Linked DNA regions of Homo sapiens: region 1 is linked to region 2. The links come from fine-mapping of genetic effects on gene expression. A gene starts in region 2. The other region holds a variant in brackets. All regions are shown on one strand. Distances are between the middles of the regions.

Region 1 (8,816 bases), 43 kb before region 2:
CTTGCTAGAGGACCCTCCGCTGTGGAGGCTGGCTTCAGCCCTGTCTTCTCCCCGTGGCCACCCAAAAGCAGGATGCAGAGCCAGGAGCAATGTGGAGCCAGCTCCTGGGGATGCAGAAAGTGCCAGTACTCCCACCCTCCATACCCCTCACGTTCTCATTCTGCAAGAATTCCCAAGAGCCCACTAAGTGCTAACACGATGTTTCAGACTCTTTACTATCAACCTGACTGAGGTTTAATTGACATAAAATTCATCTTGAATGTACCTCGATGAGTGCTAGACAACCATGTACGCGCATGTAACCACCCTCCCCATCAAGATTCAGATCACCAACACCCCGGAAAGTGGCCCACTGTGTGAACCTTCTTTGTCACCCTAAGGCAAAATGTGGTCCTCACCCCCCAATACCCCCTTGGAAGGTCTTCTGCAGTGACATTTGTCCCAATTGCTGCCACCTGTGTGTTCTCTTTTTATTTTTATTTATTTAGAGATGGAGTCTCTCTCTGTCGCCCAGGCTGGAGTACAGTGGCGCAATCCCGGCTCACTACAACCCCTCCCTCCTGGGTTCAAGCGATTCTCTTGCCTCAGCCTCCCCAGTAGCTGGGACTACAGGACCATACTCGGCTAATTTTTGTATTTGTAGTAGCGACAGGGTTTCACCATGTTGGCCATGCCAGTCTTGAACTCCTGATCTCTGGTGATCCACTCGCCTCAGCCTCCCAAAGTGCTGGGATTACAGGTGTGAGCCACCGTGTCTAGCCCCACTTGTGTGTTCTCTGTCTTCTTTCCCCATCAGGTTGGATCTCCTCAGTGGTCGGCCTGGGTCCTATTTGTCTCTGTATCTCCAGGACATAGCAACGACGGCCCTCTGTAAATAATACTCGTTGAGTGGTGAGAACCATATGGGGCAGCAGGATTTGACGCCTGAATCATGAAAACTGGGGAGATTGTTATTAATCTGGAGAGCTCCTCTTTTTTTTTTTTTTTTTTTTTTTAAGACGGGGTCTTGCTCTGTTGCTCAGGCTGGAGTGCAGTGGTGTGATCATAGCTCACTGTAGCCTCGACCTCCTAGGCTCAAGCAATCTTCCCACCTCAGCCTCCCGAGTAGCTGGGATCACAGGCACACACCACCATGCCTGTCTAATTTTTTAAATTTTTTCTAGAGACACGGTCTCACTATGTTGCCCAGGCTAGACTTGAACTCTTGGGCTCAAGCAATTCTCCCACTTTGGCCTCCCAAAATACTGGGATTACAGGCGTGAGCCACGGCTCTGGGCCAAGACAGCTCCTCTTCGAAAACAAGTGCTGATGTGGGCGTCAGCTTCCCCTCCCTCATGAACATGCTCAACTCAGGTTTCCGCTATTCTGTTAGAGACCCTGTTTATTACTAGCCCATATGAGAGGAAGAGCCTTTGAACCCTTCTGTCTAGGCTTCTAGGGTGGTCATAAGGCTTGACCCAACCTCGTGACTGTGGTGTCAGTGGATGGTACCTTCATTCTTCATTCGGAGAGAAAGAATACATAACAATGATAGTAATATGAGAATTACATGGATGTTTCTGATCTTAAATGTCATTCAAGAATCACTGTAGAAAATCTGGAGATTATGATAATATCTGACATTTATGGCCTGCTTTACTACATGCTGAAGGCTAGTCTAAGAATTTCTCATTTAAACTTCAGAACAAGGTAATGCAGTATGATTGAGGTTAAGTGCTAGAATGGTTCCCTCACATTATAGAAGAGAACCAGGTTACCTGACTTGCCCAAAGTCACATTGTTGGGAAGTGGGAGCTAGGATTTGAATCCAGGGTAGGGGCCAAGGGAAAACCTCCCCTTCGCCCTCTGAAGGTTTACTGAAAAATCAACTCAAAAAAGGCAGATTAATAGACTGGGCACACTGGGTATAATCTGAGCACTTTGGGAGGCTGAGGCTGAGGCTGGAGGATCGCTTGAGGCCAGAGGATCACATGGGTCCAGGAGTTTGAGACTAGCCTGGGCAACATAACGAGATCACCGTCTCTACGAAAACATTTTTTTAAATACTAGGTGTGGTGGCACACGCCTAATTTTTAGTTGTGGTGGTACATGCCTAAAACATTTTTTAAAAAATTCAGGAGTGGTGGTACGTGCCTGTCATCTCAGCTACTCAGGAGGCTGAAGTGGGAGGGTTGCTTGAGCCCAGGAGTTCAAGGTTACAGTGAGCTATGATTGTGCCACTGCACTCCAGCCTAAACAACAGAGTTAAGACCCTGTCTAAAAAAAAAAAAGCCTCGCCACTGAACTCCAGTCTAAGTGACAGAGTGAGACTCTGGCTCTAAAACAAAATGAGATGAAGAACCACATATGCAACAGCCCAGTAGTCATTTCTTCTTACATATCCCACAGACCCCCTATACTCAGTATGTCCAACACACCGATAACTAATCCTCTTGACTCTGCTGAGAGAGAGCATTAAAATATATATAATAGGCCGGGCATGGTGGCTCACGCCTGTAATCCCAGCACTTTGGGAGGCCAAGGCAGGCGGATCACAAGGTCAGGAGTTTGAGACCAGCCTGGCCAACATGGTGAAACCCTGTCTCTACTAAAAATACAAAAATTAGCCAGGCTTGGTGGCGTGCACCTGTAATCCCAGCTACTCGGGAGGCTGAGGCAGGAGAATTGCTTGAACCTGGGAGGCGGAGGTTGCAGTGAGCTGAGATCACACCACTGCACTCCAGCCTGGGCAACAGAGCAAGACTCCGTCTCAAAAAAAATTTATAATAATAATAAATTAAAAGGCAGATTAATTGGAGAAAAAGCATACAAATTTATTGTGCACATGGAGGAGAACCATAGAGTGATTACCAATCCCCGCAGTGGGGTACAGAAGCCTTGAGGTTACAGAAAGACTGGAGGCTTGGATCTTGGCAAAGAGATTATGGCATGGGGAGAAGAGGAGGCCTGGCTGGCAAAGGCGTTCTTGTTACATAGGAGAAATCTCAGAGGTAGCCGCTCTCAGACAGAATAGATAGTAAATGTTTCTTTCAGACCTTTAAAGGTATCAGACTCTCAGTTTTTCCTAGATATGGACAAGAGAGAGCCTCAGAGAAAGCCTGGCTGTATCAACGTAGTTTTTCTCTGCAGATGCAAATCTTCGCCACATGAGACAGTTTTGTAGGGCTGCTTCTGTTTGCGGGCCCTGTGAACAGCCATCTCAAAATATGTCAAAGAAATATATTTTGGGGTAAAATATGTTGATTCCTTCACTGGGCTTGAGGTGCCCCACTCCCAAGTTTGAGAGAAGAATCTGGGAGAGGTTTGGGAGATTTTTTTCTTTCTGGTTTTAATTGCACTCTGTTTCCTCCAGAGTTTACAGTTATTATTATTACTGTGTGATCTAATTATGTGCAAGCAACATAATCACAGAACTGATTATGCCTCTGAAAATTGGAAGGGAATATTTTGGGGGAAAAACCCAAATTGAGAAATGACTGAGTTTATAGCCAGTAACAGCTGTTGTTTTTAGGAAGTTAAATCGATTTCTTTTGCTCAAAGAGTTTCTACTTCCTGAAGAGATGTACCCTGTTTTCTATGGGTGCAAAGGCAGTCTGTGTACATCATGATACTCCATACGGGCCTGATGGCGCTCAAACAGAAGGCCAGGCCAGCAGGCATCAGAAGCTTTTCCTTTCCCCCAGTTTCCTGTTTCCAGATCGTATTCCAAAGCTATAATTTCTACTTACCTTGAAGACCTTCAGTTTTCCCTGTTTCCTTCCTCTACTCCCTGAGCCTCTCACTATGAGATCCCTAGAGTGTGGTTGTAA[C/T]GGCCTCCTCTAGCGGGTGCCCAGGCCCCAGTCTGCTCTGCTCCACACTTCCCCCTAGGGGCAGTTCTCTGCCTGCGTCCATGCTACCCCCTGCTTCTAAACCTTCCAGCGATCCTCAACACCAGTCGCCTATAAAGTACAAGGGCCTTGCACTTTATAGTTGGCCTTCAGGGAGGGCACAGTTTGCAGCCAGTACTGCCTACCAGCACACTTCTGTTTCCTTCAGCTCACCAAAGCTTTAGCCATGAGAGTTTATCATTCCTTCCTCATCTTCCTGTCCACGCCTGTATTTCCAGATCATTCACACTGTGCCCTCTGCCAGGAATGCCTTAGTCTCATTTCCAACCTCACGGCCACCTTAGGAGACAGCTCTTGTGGCATAGATGTTAAGATGGAAGGTTCTGGAGTCAGGCTGCAGGATTTGTATACTAATTCTGCCCAGGGTGTGCAGCCTGTGCAGTCACATAAGAGCCACACTAAGGAGGGCTCCGGGCTTGGTTTTTTGCTCTGCTACCACCATCTTGAAATTCTTAATCATTTTTGAACCAGGGCACTGGACTTGCAAACTATGTAGCCAATTCTGCTTCTGACACTGACAAACTGTCTAACTATAAAATCAGGATGACAGTGAAGGCTTAGAACAGGGTCAGGCACTTTGGAAGCGGTCAGTGAATGGGAGCTATCATTATCCCCATCTTACACACCAGGAAAGAGGCTCAGTGAGTTGCTCCACACCCCACAGCTGTCACGTGACAGAAACGGTGACGTGGCTTACTTTCACTTCCCACGCCGATGTGAACTTTCCTACGTAGCCCTGACTCTTTGTAGCACGTGGTCATGTCTGCTCTCAGTGTATTATGTGGCAGTATTTAAAGGCTGCTCATACTGCCTTTGTTCCTTTAGAAGTAAGCAAAGCACAGAGTTAGTATTTCTCACACTTGAAAAATGAGAACAGTAAATCAGTGACTGCCTTAAACATCCAAATCCAATTATGACCTTTGCTGAGACAAAGATGCTGGCATCAGAGTCTGGAGTCTGGGGCTCTGTGAACCCACACACCATGCCTGTCCCTCTTCAGTCTGGAGCCAGAATCCTCCCTTTCCCACAAAAGACAAAAGATGCTAACAGATGCACGCTGGTTTCCGGAGGAAAAGGCCACTTCTGTGAGCCAGTGGGAAGACGGGAAGTCTTTCCTGCAGGAAGGGGGTAGGTAGCTCAGGATACTAGCAGGAGATGCTTTTAATTGTTCTGCAACAGTGACAGCTCAGCATCGTGATTCCTGGTGGTGCTGGGGTGCAGTACTATTGTTAATGTCAGCTCCCATTCATTCATTCCTCTATTTTCACACTCACACATTCTGAATGCAGTTATTATGCTGTGGTCTTGGGGAAGGAGCTGTGCTAGTGGAAAGTGATGCAAAGTGAAAAGAATATTCTTGCCACTTGGGGATTAGGGAGAAAACCAGCAAGTATGCAAAGATTCACAACCATCTGGTGAGTGCCTAAAGCCAGATATTATCAGAACTCGGGTAAAACCAGAGGCCTAGAAAAGGCAGGAAAAACATGGCTCCCTCAAGAGGTGAAATTTGAGCTGAGATTTGAGGGATAAGGAGATCTGATTGCCAGTCCCGTTGAATTCATTTCCTATCCCTGTAGTAGCAAAGGACCACAGATCCAGCAGCTTAAACAACACAAATTGATCATCTTAAAGTTCTGGAGGTCAGAAGTCTCACTGGGCCAAAATCAACGTACCTGGTAGGCTACATCTTTTCATGGAGGTTCTGGGGGAGAAGCTGCTTCCCTGCCTTTCCAGCTTCTAGAGGCCTTCTAGATTCCTTGCTTCCTCCATCTTCAAAGCTGGCAATGTCACATCTCTCTGACCAGTCCTGCATAGTCACATTTCCCCCTGACTCTCCTCTTGAGCTGCCCTCCTTCACTTTTAAGGGCCCTTGTCACTACACTAGGCCCACCCGGATAATCTAGGATGATCTCCCTACTTGGAGGTCACCTGACTAGCAATATTAAATCCGTCTGCAGTCAAAATTCCCTTTTGCCATGTAACCAAATATTCATAGGTTCCAGGGATTAGGATGCAGACATGTTTTGGGGCTGCTACTCTGCCTGCTATGCTCATTTTGTAGATTACTTGCTGTGTGCCCCTGAGCAATTTTGTCCAGTCTCTCTGAGCCTGAGGCTTCTTGTCTGTAAAAAGTAGAAATAAGACCCGCCCTGCCCATCTCACCTGAGAATGTAATGAGATAGTGTTTGTAAAAATGCTTTAATAATGGCAAAGGTCTCTGTCAGCATAGATGTTCCTATGAGGGGGAAGGGCAGGGGATAACATCCTGAGTGTCTGCTGCATTCTAGGTAGGTACTAGGAGATGGTTTATCCCAGATGGCGCATACCTCTTCCCAATTCCACATTCAGAGCTGTCACACTGGTGTCTTGAGATCTGCCATGGTGACAGTATTTACACCATGGAAATACTCCAAATCAGGGCTGCCCCCACCACCTTGAGAACCAGTTGTTAAACATTTACCAGCACATGACAGGTCTATTCCATTTATTTAAGAAAAACCACCTGAAGGGGCTTTTATTCCTTTATAGTATAGATAGGCAAGTCAAGCTCACAGCCAGTGATAAACCCACCTAAGATCTCACAGCTGGTAAGAGTGACTGAGTGTTGAGGCTGGCTTGTCATACTCCAAAGTTGATTTTTCCACTGTACCCTCAAAACCATTCTTCACTCCTCCAGTTCTGCCTACCCTTGACAGGTTTGATTACTCTAACTAACCAAGAGAATTGTGGGACTTAATAGCAGGTTCAAAACTGTAACTGTCATGCCTAAGTTGGTGGATGGCCACGTTTTGGCTGTGGAAGTGCAGTTTCCTGGGGGCTCACCTGGGTCACTGCCAACTTGACCTAAATCAAGTTTAAAGCCTTCCACCCTAGAGGTTAGGCAGCATATGAAAATACTGAATTCTCCACTGTCAACTGCAGAGGGTTAAAAGGGATTTGATGTAAACAAATTGCCAGGTCACACAAAAGTCAAAGTGCCACATGGCTTCCTCTTAGACAACCTGGAAGTGTTTGAAGGTCAGCAAACACAAGTGCTTCATTCAGAAGTGAACAAAGCAAATAGCAGGCTAGCATTATTGACCTTTGGGAGCAGAATTAATGGTGGCAATTGGAGATTTAAAACAAAACCAAACTGACTTGACTTCATGTTCTATTTTAATCAGGTTCCTATTTCTCTGTGTACTAACTTTGTTTTATTAAGTTTTGGGTTTTATTTTAAATGTGCTCAAAGCATAAGACATCTAAAGTAGTTAGTGGGCGTGAGGAATTAATTGACCCAGGAGCAAAGACTGCACATCTGACAATGGTTCTCAGTTTGGCTGTACATGGGAACCACCTGGGGACCTTTCAAAACGCCAGCTGCCCTGGTTGCATGCAGACCAGTTAATCCAAATCTCGGGGGCAGGGGGTAGGGGGGTCCCTGGCATTGGTCCTTGCGGATTGAAGCTCCCAGGTGATTCCCATGTGCAGCCAAGGTCGAGAACCACTACTCTTGTAGTTTATTTCCCTTATTCCCACTTAGCGTTTCTATTTTTTGAGTTTCTGTTGTGTATAGTCTGTTTGGGAAAAGCACTGTATCCAGTTACATGAGAGGTCCTGACACCACAGAAGGTGAAAAGGCCTCAGGGCGTTTCCTAGTGGGTGTTTCAGAGAATAAAGAATCCCCACACCTAGAAAACCAGTTCTCCCACACTCACCAGGAGTGACATCACCAGGAGCCAATAAAAAATTTCCACTTGAGTTTACCAGTTAAGCCCTCAATTGATTGAACCTAGAAATTGCTAGACAAACTGTGAAGGATTAGGTTCCTCCAAACTGCTCCTTTTATGAGGCCCATTCTCTGATTTACACTAGATCTAGCCTCTTACCAGTTCTCTCAGTTTCAATGCATTTGTTCTGTGGCTGTTGTAGTATTGGCAGGAGGAGGATTTGAGTCCGCAGGCAGATAAGAAGCCAAGTTTCAGAGGAAAAACAATGGAGATTCCACACCCTGAGCTCCTTGAGTCTAAAACCAAAGCCTAAAGGCTGTAGGCAAATTGTTGCTGCCCCCTATTGGCAGTGATTGGTGTTGACGCATGAGAAAGAGTCCAAGCCCCCTGGTGGTAAATTCCAGCTAGGCCCATCCCTTGCTGTCGCTCCACATTCCACTAACAATGCTGTAGGCACAAAAGAATTCCCCCTTAAATATATCAGATGGGAGTTGTGAAAGGAAAATAAATCTTGGGACCCCAAAATCACTAAGCTAAAGGGAAGTCAAGCTGGGAACTGCGTCAAGCAAACCTGCCTCCCATTTTATTCCTAAATAAGACAGCTACAAAGATAAAAAAAAAAAAAAGACATACCTCCCTCACAATTTGCCCACAAGGAAATTCCTCGTGGACAAAGGACAGACAGAGCTCAAAGTCATCCCTCTGAGGCTCATGTGAGACAAATGCATATCTGATTGCTTCCTCTGCCCTGTCGTTTCACCAAGGCAGACCAGGCATAAGTGACTATTCCTCCACCCTCCTCTCCCATGTGAATTGTATATTCAGTGAAAGGCTAATCAGAGACCCAATAGAATGCAACAAATGTCTCTTATCTACCTGTGATCTGGAAGCCCCCTCCCCTGATTCGAGTTGTCCTGCCTGTCTGGACGGAACCAATGTACATCTTACACATGTTGATTGATGTCTCACGTCTCCCTAAAATGTGTAGAACCAAGCTGTGCTCCGACCACCTTGGGCCCATGTAGCCAGGACCTCTTGAGGCTGTGTCATGGGTGCATCCTTAACCTTGGCAAAATAAACTTTCTAAATTGACTGAGGCCTGTCTCAGATATTTTGGATTCACAAATTGGTAACCATGAAGGGATTCTGAGTGGAGGTACCCCTGACCTTTGACAAATCTACTGTTGGTGCTTGGTACCAGCTTGAGCTATCTTTATGG
Region 2 (8,816 bases):
AGAAAAGGGGAATTTGGAAATAGACACACAGGAAAGAAGGCCACCCACATGAGGAGAGGTGAAGGCTAGAGAGATGCAGCGGCAAGCCAGAGAGCATCAAGAATTGCTAGCTACCACCAGAAGCTGGGAGAGGAGCATGAAACAGATTTTCCCTCTAGCCCCTTAAGAAGGAACCAACCCTGCCAACAACACATTGGTTTCTGACTTGTGGTTTCCAGAACTGTGAGAGGATATATTTCTGCTGTTTTGATCCACCAAGTTTGTGGTACTTTGTTTCAGCAGTCCTGGGAAACGAATCAAGTAAGAGCAGAGAACAGGTAAATGACAGTTGTTCTGTGAAACCCTCTGCTGAGACAAGTTCAAGCTGCCAGAAAAAAGGCCTTTGCCTGGCATGCCCTTGAGCTTGCTGCAATGAACACCCTTATGAGGATGACTGGGTCTTCGTGGTCCAGATCTTTCACTGGGGTTGTCTTAGAGCACCCAGTGAAAAGCAAAACCCACTTCTTTAAAGAAAACGTATGAATCATGAAAAAAAAAAGAAAAAAAAATGTGCCCAACTTCTCCTCTCCCTGCCAAATACAGTTATTGCTAATGAGGAAGCAATTTCACAACAGTTTTTCTATTTTCCATACATCATTTGTCCTTTGGTTAGGTCCACAGTACATGACCTGCCAATTTTCTTCTGCAGATTCTGAAGGAAACAGACAGCACAACAACAACAGCCTCTCTCAGTCCTCACCCAAATCTTTCTTCTGAAATTGGATGCTGATGGCCACCAAACACGTTTTTAAAAGACCAGTGCAGTTTGAAGAACAGGTCAGAAAGTCTGCCTTCGCTGAAAACTCATTCGCTGGGAGTTGCAATGAGCAGATAGGACACACCCAGAATTCGCCTGAAGGGGAGGGCTGCAGCCAGGGCGGAGACCAGATGTGTGGGCACAAAGGTAGGGACGCTGCCATGTGAGACTAAAATAAATTCCACGTAGTGTGCAGTGCAGGTGGTCTGGGAGGGGCGTAAAGCTGTCTTCCTGGAATTAACAGCTTTTTACCTTTTTAGTCTCCTTTCCCAGGCTGCAGGAGCTATTTTGCAAAGATGACTCCTTCATTCTCCCTTTCAAAGGCTTCCTTCAAGGTCTCCTGGGATGGGTCTTGCTGATGTTCCCTAACACTGAAGTGTCAAGAGAACCTATTGATTATAACATGTAATTAATCTCCTCAGTTGAATTACTTAGCTGCTTCAGCACAATGTTTGGATTCAACCAGAGCTGAATTTTTGCCAGACTGGAAATAGTTCTAATTTTTGATGGATTCTGATTCATTCGCAGTTAACAATGTTGACCACTGATACATGATGAAAGGAAATTAAGAAATGGTTATGCAGGTAGGATTTGTCACTTTAGATGAAATTTACAATTAATAATAGATACTTTATTTTACCCATCCCAAATTCAATGGATTCACTAACAGCTTTGGAAGACAAAAGAAAACATGACCACATTAAGTGCACTTATCATTAAAGAGATGGGTCCTGACTTAACATACACAAAAATATGAAAAACTGTGTTACTGGATGCTGGGAAATAGGGTAGGGAGCATTTGTTTAATCCTCAGAAACAAAAACAAAAACAAAAAAACCCAAAGAAGTCCATGAGGCCCCTGCTTTACAGACATGGGACCTGAGGCTCAGAGAGATGAATGTTTTCAAGGTCACTCAGATGGTAGGTGGTAGAGTTGAAAGTGACCCTAGATTTACCTGAGTAGTTAATGAATTGGGAGGGCTGAAGCCAAGGGGCTAGTTGGCCATGATCTGGTTTCAGTGATCAGCAGAGACCTGATAGCCCTATGTGGAACCTCCAAGACTCAAATGCTGGTGGCGGATTTTCCACGTTCCCTTTCTGCACTGAGCAGGCTACCACAGAGAACTTCCAGATTCTTTGTCATTCCTTAGAACCACAGGAAATCTACTGATTTTAGACATACACACCAACTAGCAGCTCTTTGTAACTTTCTGCAAAATCAACACAGCCTGTATCTGCTAATGCCAATCCAGAACCACAGGTTATGTATTTATATTACTGTGTCTTATAGCAGGGGTGTCCAATCTTTCAGCTTCTCTGGGCCACACTGGAAGAAGAAGAATTGTCTTGGGCCACACATAAAATACACTAACACTAACAGTAGCTGATGGGCTAAAAAACAAATGCATAATATTTTCAGAAAGTTTATGAATTTGTCTTGGGCTGCATTCAAAGCTGTCCTCGGCCATATGCAGCCCGCAGGCCGAGGGTTGGACAGGCTTGTCCTATGGTCTTGAGTAGTCCTAAATTGGGGCTACTAATTTAAAAATAACAAATCCCTCAACCCCATTTAATAACCCAGATGAACTCAGAGATGTTGCATTGGAATGACGTTCCCCTCAATGGAACCTGGAGGCGACACTATGATGCACTTACAAATAATGTCCAACTGCGTTTCAAAGACTAACTGTGGGTAATGACATCCTTCCCTGTGAAACACACCCTAATATTCTGTGAGTCTGGGGTCTTCCATAAGACTGCTTTCTCTTTCATAATCTCTGAGATTCTTAGATTATTATAATGAAAGGATGAGAAGCAGTGATTGAAAGAGGAGAATGAACTCCATCAACTGCCCTCACTCTTATCTGCAGTCTCAGCTTTTCAGAGAAAGCATACTTAGAACTTCTATTTTGCTTTCTAAAATCAAACCAAGGTGGCTGGTAAATACATTTCAGCTCTTCCTGGAGCATTTCTAGCCACCTAAAAAAACGGACTGTGCTTTTTAACAAAAGGACCAAAAAACTGTTGATGTTCTAAGGCACTGATTCTTAACTTTGGCTGCACAGTAGAGATACTTAGGAACTCTAAAAGCTACAAATGCCAAGCCCTGTATCCAGAGATTTTGGTTTCATTGATCTGGGGTTCAGTCTGGGCAGCAGGAGTTTTGAAAGCTCCCCCTCTGATTTGAGTCCATTGCGAAGGCTAACAACCTCTGCCTTTAGGCAGGAGGTCAGCCAGGTCCTTGACCTCCATTGGCCACCAGTGGGAGCAAAGTGGCCATTTTTTGCAAGTTTAATTTGATTTTATTATTACTCTATTTACCAATCTGTTGTTGTTGTTGTTGTTGTTGTTTTGAAACAGAGTCTTACTCCGTTGCCCAGGCTGGAGTACAATGGTGCGATCTTTGCTCACTGCAACATCCACCTCATGGGCTCAAGCGATTCTCCTGCCTCAGCCTCCTGAGTAGCTGGGACTACAGGTGCGTACCACCACACCTGGCTAATTTTTGTATTTTTAGTAGAGACGAGGTTTTGCCGTGTTGACCGGGCTGGTCTCTACCTACTGACCTCAAGTGATCCGCCCACGTCGGCTTCCCAAAGTGCTGGGATTATAGGCGTGAGCCACCGGGCCCCGGCTATTTACCACATTCTTACAGTACAATTATACTGGCTATCACAGCAGCTTACAAATATCAAGTAGGAATTGGATAATTTCAACTGCAATCCCATATGTGTCATTGGCCCAGTTGACCGAATTCCATATGGGCCACCTACAGTCATTTTGTAAAGCATTGTAAAATTTTAGTGCAGAATTAATTTACCTTCAAGATCCATAATGAACATTAGGTGGGTATAAAAATTAACTTCAGGCCGGGCGCGGTGGCTCATGCCTGTAATCCCAGCACTTTGGGAGGCTGAGACAGGCGGATCACCTGAGGTCAGGAGTTCGAGACCAGCCTGGCCAACATGGAGAAACCCCGTCTCTACTAAAAATACAAAAATTAGCCAGGCGTGGTGGCACACACCTGTAGTCCCAGCTACTTGGGAGGTTGAGGCAGGAGAATCGCTTGAACCCGGGAGGCGGAGGTTGCAGTGAGCTGAGATCACGCCACTGCACTCCAACCTGGGTGGCAGACCCATTAACTTCAAAAGACTTAAGTGTACTTTAAATTGTTGTCAAAATTAACTCCAAGGACTTTGGGGAAAAATATATAGTACATTTTGGATGAGACTCTCTTGAAATCAGACTTTTCAATTGCTCTTAAACCTCATTGAATTTTCTAGAAAATGTATCATTTAAAAAGAAGTGTAAAGTTCATTTTTAGTCTGACAGTTCTTGACAATAACAAAAACGGACCACCTGCTATGTCTTGACAGTGTAAAATAATAATTACAGAAATTGTAGCATGTTATTAGGTTGGTGGAAAAGTAATCACAGTTTTTTGTACCAACCTAATTATTTAAAACTCTGACCAAGAAAAGTAGCAATTAATGTCGAACTTTAAGCCTCCAACAGTAGGTTAAGCTCAGGCTTCACTAGGATCTAGCAATTGACCTATGTATGTGAAGGAAGAGAGTTTGTCCTTTTCTACAGAAATAGCAAAGGAAGAATATTTCCCTCACCTTCTCTTCCAACCCTGTTGTTCTGGAAGAGGATATTGTCTCTGGTAGGGCCAGTAAGTAATATTTCCAGTTCAATTTCTAACTTGAAATTTTCTTATTTTCCTGTCCAAATTAGTAAGATCATCACTGCATTTGATTTTCAAAATTTACTCTCTAATTCCTTTATACTAACGTGTGCACAAATTAAAGATCATAGCAAGCCGCTTTACCTGCATTTACAGTTGTTTCGATCTTTAATTTTTATCCTTATTTGCCCATTTATTACTTTCTAGGCTCACACCATTTGCCACCAACCCAGATTTCTGGGTCAGAAACCCCATATTCTGTTGGAAAGCTTTGCTAAAGAAATAGAAGTGGCTTACCATGTTTCTGTTGTTCTAATTTTTCATTCCGTAACTTGCAGCAGCGCAGAATGGTACCCTCTATGCAGGAGGTGGCCGAGAAGAGAAACTGGCTAACTTCCTGAAATGGCTCTATTTACCATCAGCAGAACGTAGCGTGTGTTTTACAGAAGTTTACATGAAAAGAAGGGAACTTGTGATTTCTTAGCTGTTGCCAAATCATTAATTGACTGTGCTTTAAAACTTTGAAACTGAAGTTATGGGAAAAAGTCATTTATGAAATGATTTAAATACAACCCAAATCAGACACACACGACGTATTTTTGTTAGTTTTTGTGTATTTGTGTGTACAGGGGAGAAAAAGGGAACATTATTCCATTCACTAAGAAAACTTCAGTGTATTCTTTTTTAAAAAAGTTACCATAAATTTGTACTGAACTTCGGATTTCTCAAACTCGTCTTCCTTGTGTAATTCACAGATGTAGGCGAATAACATGAACATTGCTTCATCTTTGTTCCACAAGTTTCTGAGACAGCACCGGTAGGTATGGGTCTCCCTCCCACTGGGCTGTGGCCGCAAAGCGAGCATCTTTCTCCTGGGCGCCCCATGCCTCCTCCAGCACCTGGCATGTAGTATAAGCTCAATGAGTGTTCATTGTATGAACGAGTGAGTCAATGGCTGAGCATTCGTGAGGCTGGAAAATTTAATCTTCCCGATTTAGTCTGATAAATGGATTCCATTTTATGCTCGGAGAGCAAGGGCCTCAAAAGGTGTAACCAAGAGCAGAGGTCAGCAAACTGCAGCCTTTGAACGAAATCCGGCCCAGAAGTGAAAACATTTTTAGATGAACATTGGCAATGGATTTGCTGATACAGAACACTAACTTTAAATTCCAACCAAGCAGAATGTTAGCACCTCCAAAAATGATTCCATTCTTCTCATTATTAAACCTATACTACAAAAAAACTGCCTTCGATTATTATTATTACATTTTGAGTTTCATCAATTACATAATTGTGGAAATTTTTATTTTACTATATAAGTAGCTACATAATATGCCAAATTTGCTTCTTGGCCTGTAAAACCTAAGATATTTGCCATCTGGCCCTTTACAGAAAAAGTTTGCTGACCCCTGGCCACAAGAATAAAGTTTAGAACGGGATGTGATATGTTTCATCTTGCCTTACACCCCAGGAGTGGGAGAAAACCAAATTGGCAGCAGGGTGGGCAGAGATGACATCCATATATAAATGGACTGTGGAACACCTTGTTATGAAGGAAGGCCTGTCAGCAGTCAAAGAATGGCTTGGGTGGGTATACCTAGATGGACCTCTAAAGATCACACCCTAAGGGAATTCAAGACCTGGTGCATGGTTTGAGAGGTGATTCCTGTGACATCAGAGAGTGCAGCCTGGGCCTTCATGGGCAAACCAAAAACATTTGTGATTGTAAACCCAAAGGCCTCGGCTGGCCGCATCCAAGTCTCTTGGTTTCCCTCCAAACATTTGCTTGGAAATAAAGTAAAGAAAGTAAGTAAGAATGGATCGAGTGCAGTGGCTCACACCTGTAATTCCAGCACTTTGTAGAGGCCGAGGCAGGAGGATCACTTGTGCTCAGGGGTTTGAGACCAACCCGGGCAACATGGCAAAACCTTGTCTCTAAAAAAATACAAAAATTAGCCAGGCATGGTGGTGTGCACCTGTAGTCCCAGTTACTCGGGTGGCTGAGGTGGGAGGATCGCTTGAGCCCAGGAGGTGGAGATTGCAGTGAGCCATGATAGTGCCACTGCACTCTAGCCTGGGTGACAGAATGAGACTTTGTCTAAAAAAACAAACAAACAAACAAACAAAAAACAGCGAAGTAAAAATGACTTCCAGCCGTTGACTGAGCAAGGATCCTTGGAACTGGAGAGTTTGTCAGCTTTCTAGAAAAGCGAGACTCACATACCCTGGCTTCTAGGCCACCAAGTGTCAGCCAATTGTAGACCAGTCAATTGGCCTTGTAAAGCATGCTTGTATACGTATATATATATATGTGTGTGTGTGTGTGTGTGTGTGTGTGTGTGTATCATCATGTATATATGATATATATATATTTTTTATGTACATATGCATGTTTATATGTATATATACACACATACAGTCTAGTATCTATGTCAAGCAAACTCATAAAAATGAGTTACTTACTTATACCAAATGAGCCTTCAGTTTTCTCCACACAACCAGTACCATAAAAGATGAAAATGAAAATGGAATTGACACCAGGGCAGGAAGGTTACTGAGAGGAAGAAGCTCCATCTGCTTGTAAAGTAGCCAGATGATTGGCTTCTGCCCAAGCCCAGAAACTGGTCCTTGGTGGCCAGGTCTGCTCTCCCCACCCTGCACTGTGAGGCCAAAAGCTCCTGGGCATCTCCTAGACCAATCTTTCCTTACTCTTCCCCTTGCCATCCATGCTGACACAGATCTTGATTCCAAAATGGAGAAGACCTGTCATGAACCGCTTCTGCCAGGCAAGCCTGCCAGACAACGTGCACTTCCCAGACACACAAATCACCAGCAGACAAGCCTCTCTGAGCCTTAGTTTTCTCATCTGTCAAATTGGGATAAGAATAGTAGTATCTTTCTCAGATGTTGGCTTTGAGGATTAAATTGTTCATATCGTGGAACTCTTAGAAAAGTAGCTGGCACAAAGTGAGCGTTCAACTAGCAGAGCTGGAATTATTATTACTACGCTTGTTGTTACAGACTTCACACATTCCTGGGCTGTTGCCAACAGTAGGCCTGAAGAACCACTCTTGGGGCCTTCCCCAGCCCTGGACACAGCCCTTTCCTCTCGAGTGGATGACCAGACAATTCATAAGGCAGCAAATGGCTTCCCCATACTGGGGCTGCCGCGAAGTACCACATATGGAAATAACGTGCAACCCTGGAAAAAGCTCAAGGTCTGGGAAAACACCAAGTGCCTGGAATCAGTTGTTTGTTGTGAAATCAATGCTAAATATATACAAAGCTAAAGTGAAAGGACTTACGTGGAAGAAACTTTTAAGTCAACGATTCAGATGAAGAAATGCACAAGAGGCTTCCTTTACACAAATCTCTTGTGATCCTGGTTTTAAGTGGGGGTGCAGAGCTCCTGAGAGGACAGCTACTGTGCGTCCATGTTTAGGAGCCACGCTGCAGCTTCCCTTGGCCCCTTTAAGCGGCTGCCCTTCCCTGGCCAGGGAAGACACGGGTGAGATAGGCCACAGGTGTTTCCTGAAACTGTCTCCTCCTGCCTCCACTTGACCTTAGCTTTGCAAATCCTGGGCGCTTTGTGGTCACCTCTGGGATGCAACTTGTTGGTGTCACGCCCACTTTGCCAGGTCCTGCCGGCAGATATGGGCTGCTTGTTTTCTTTGTCCCCAAGTCCCCACGTGCCTCCTGATGGTCTGTGGCCCAGATGGGATGGAGTCCTCTGCACCAACACCTACTTAAGGCGCTACCCACCCACCACTCCTGTTCTCTCTGCTTGTTACTATAATCCCCATTTTCAGAGGAGGAAACAGGCTCATAAAGGCTCAGTCATTTACCCAAATTCAGCAGCAAAGCTTGGATCTGAACGGAAAGCTCTGTCGTACTTGCCACTTTCTCTGCTGGATGACATTTTGGTGGCTCCGTGTTACATTCACCAGACTGTACAAGTTTTGAGCCCAAGGGCTGTTGTATCCATCCAGCCTGGTCTTACACATGGATGTTGGTGAAAATGGATGGGGACGAATGGATGGATGGATGGATGGATGTTGGTGAAAATTAAAGGGAAACAGAGGATGATATTGATAGAATTAAGGGAAGTTTCTTTTGTATATAAAATTTTTCTGAGTATAATGTTATTACATGGTCCTAAATATCCCAATAAAGGAATGTAGAACACATCAGATGAAAGCTCTCCAAATTCCACTCCTCAGAGTTGACCATTGTTAATGGTTTGGTATATGTTCTTCAAGATTTTTCCTATGTATATACTGACATATAATTACGTACAGAATTCTTTTTGAAAACTGAGTTCACATGATACGT

Alleles and levels. Alleles are on the strand shown, and positions count from the first base shown. SD is a standard deviation of normalised expression in the study named.
For the expression in breast of the gene that starts at base 4,871 in region 2, allele C in region 1 goes with a lower level than allele T (small effect, 0.13 SD a copy in GTEx).

What was found.
Region 1: its variant is fine-mapped to the expression of TLR8 in breast (GTEx, PIP 0.96).

What each region holds. Positions count from the first base shown.
Region 1 is chrX:12,946,099-12,954,914 of GRCh38, reverse strand. No RefSeq gene overlaps it. Among named protein-coding and RNA genes, the nearest start is that of TLR8-AS1, 7.2 kb to the right of the region's middle. RefSeq lists enhancers at 3,551-3,780, 3,711-4,005, 4,411-4,705, 7,703-7,832 and cis regulatory regions at 3,634-4,063, 4,333-4,745, 7,707-8,150. The variant C/T (reference allele first, on the strand shown) is at 3,810.
Region 2 is chrX:12,902,675-12,911,490 of GRCh38, reverse strand. It overlaps TLR8 (toll like receptor 8), which reads right to left and starts at 4,871. Exons shown (of 2, transcript NM_138636.5): 1 at 4,782-4,871. The coding sequence starts at 4,784. TLR8-AS1 (TLR8 antisense RNA 1) reads left to right here. Exons shown (of 5, transcript NR_030727.1): 3 at 3,158-3,275; 4 at 5,240-5,301; 5 at 7,506-8,674.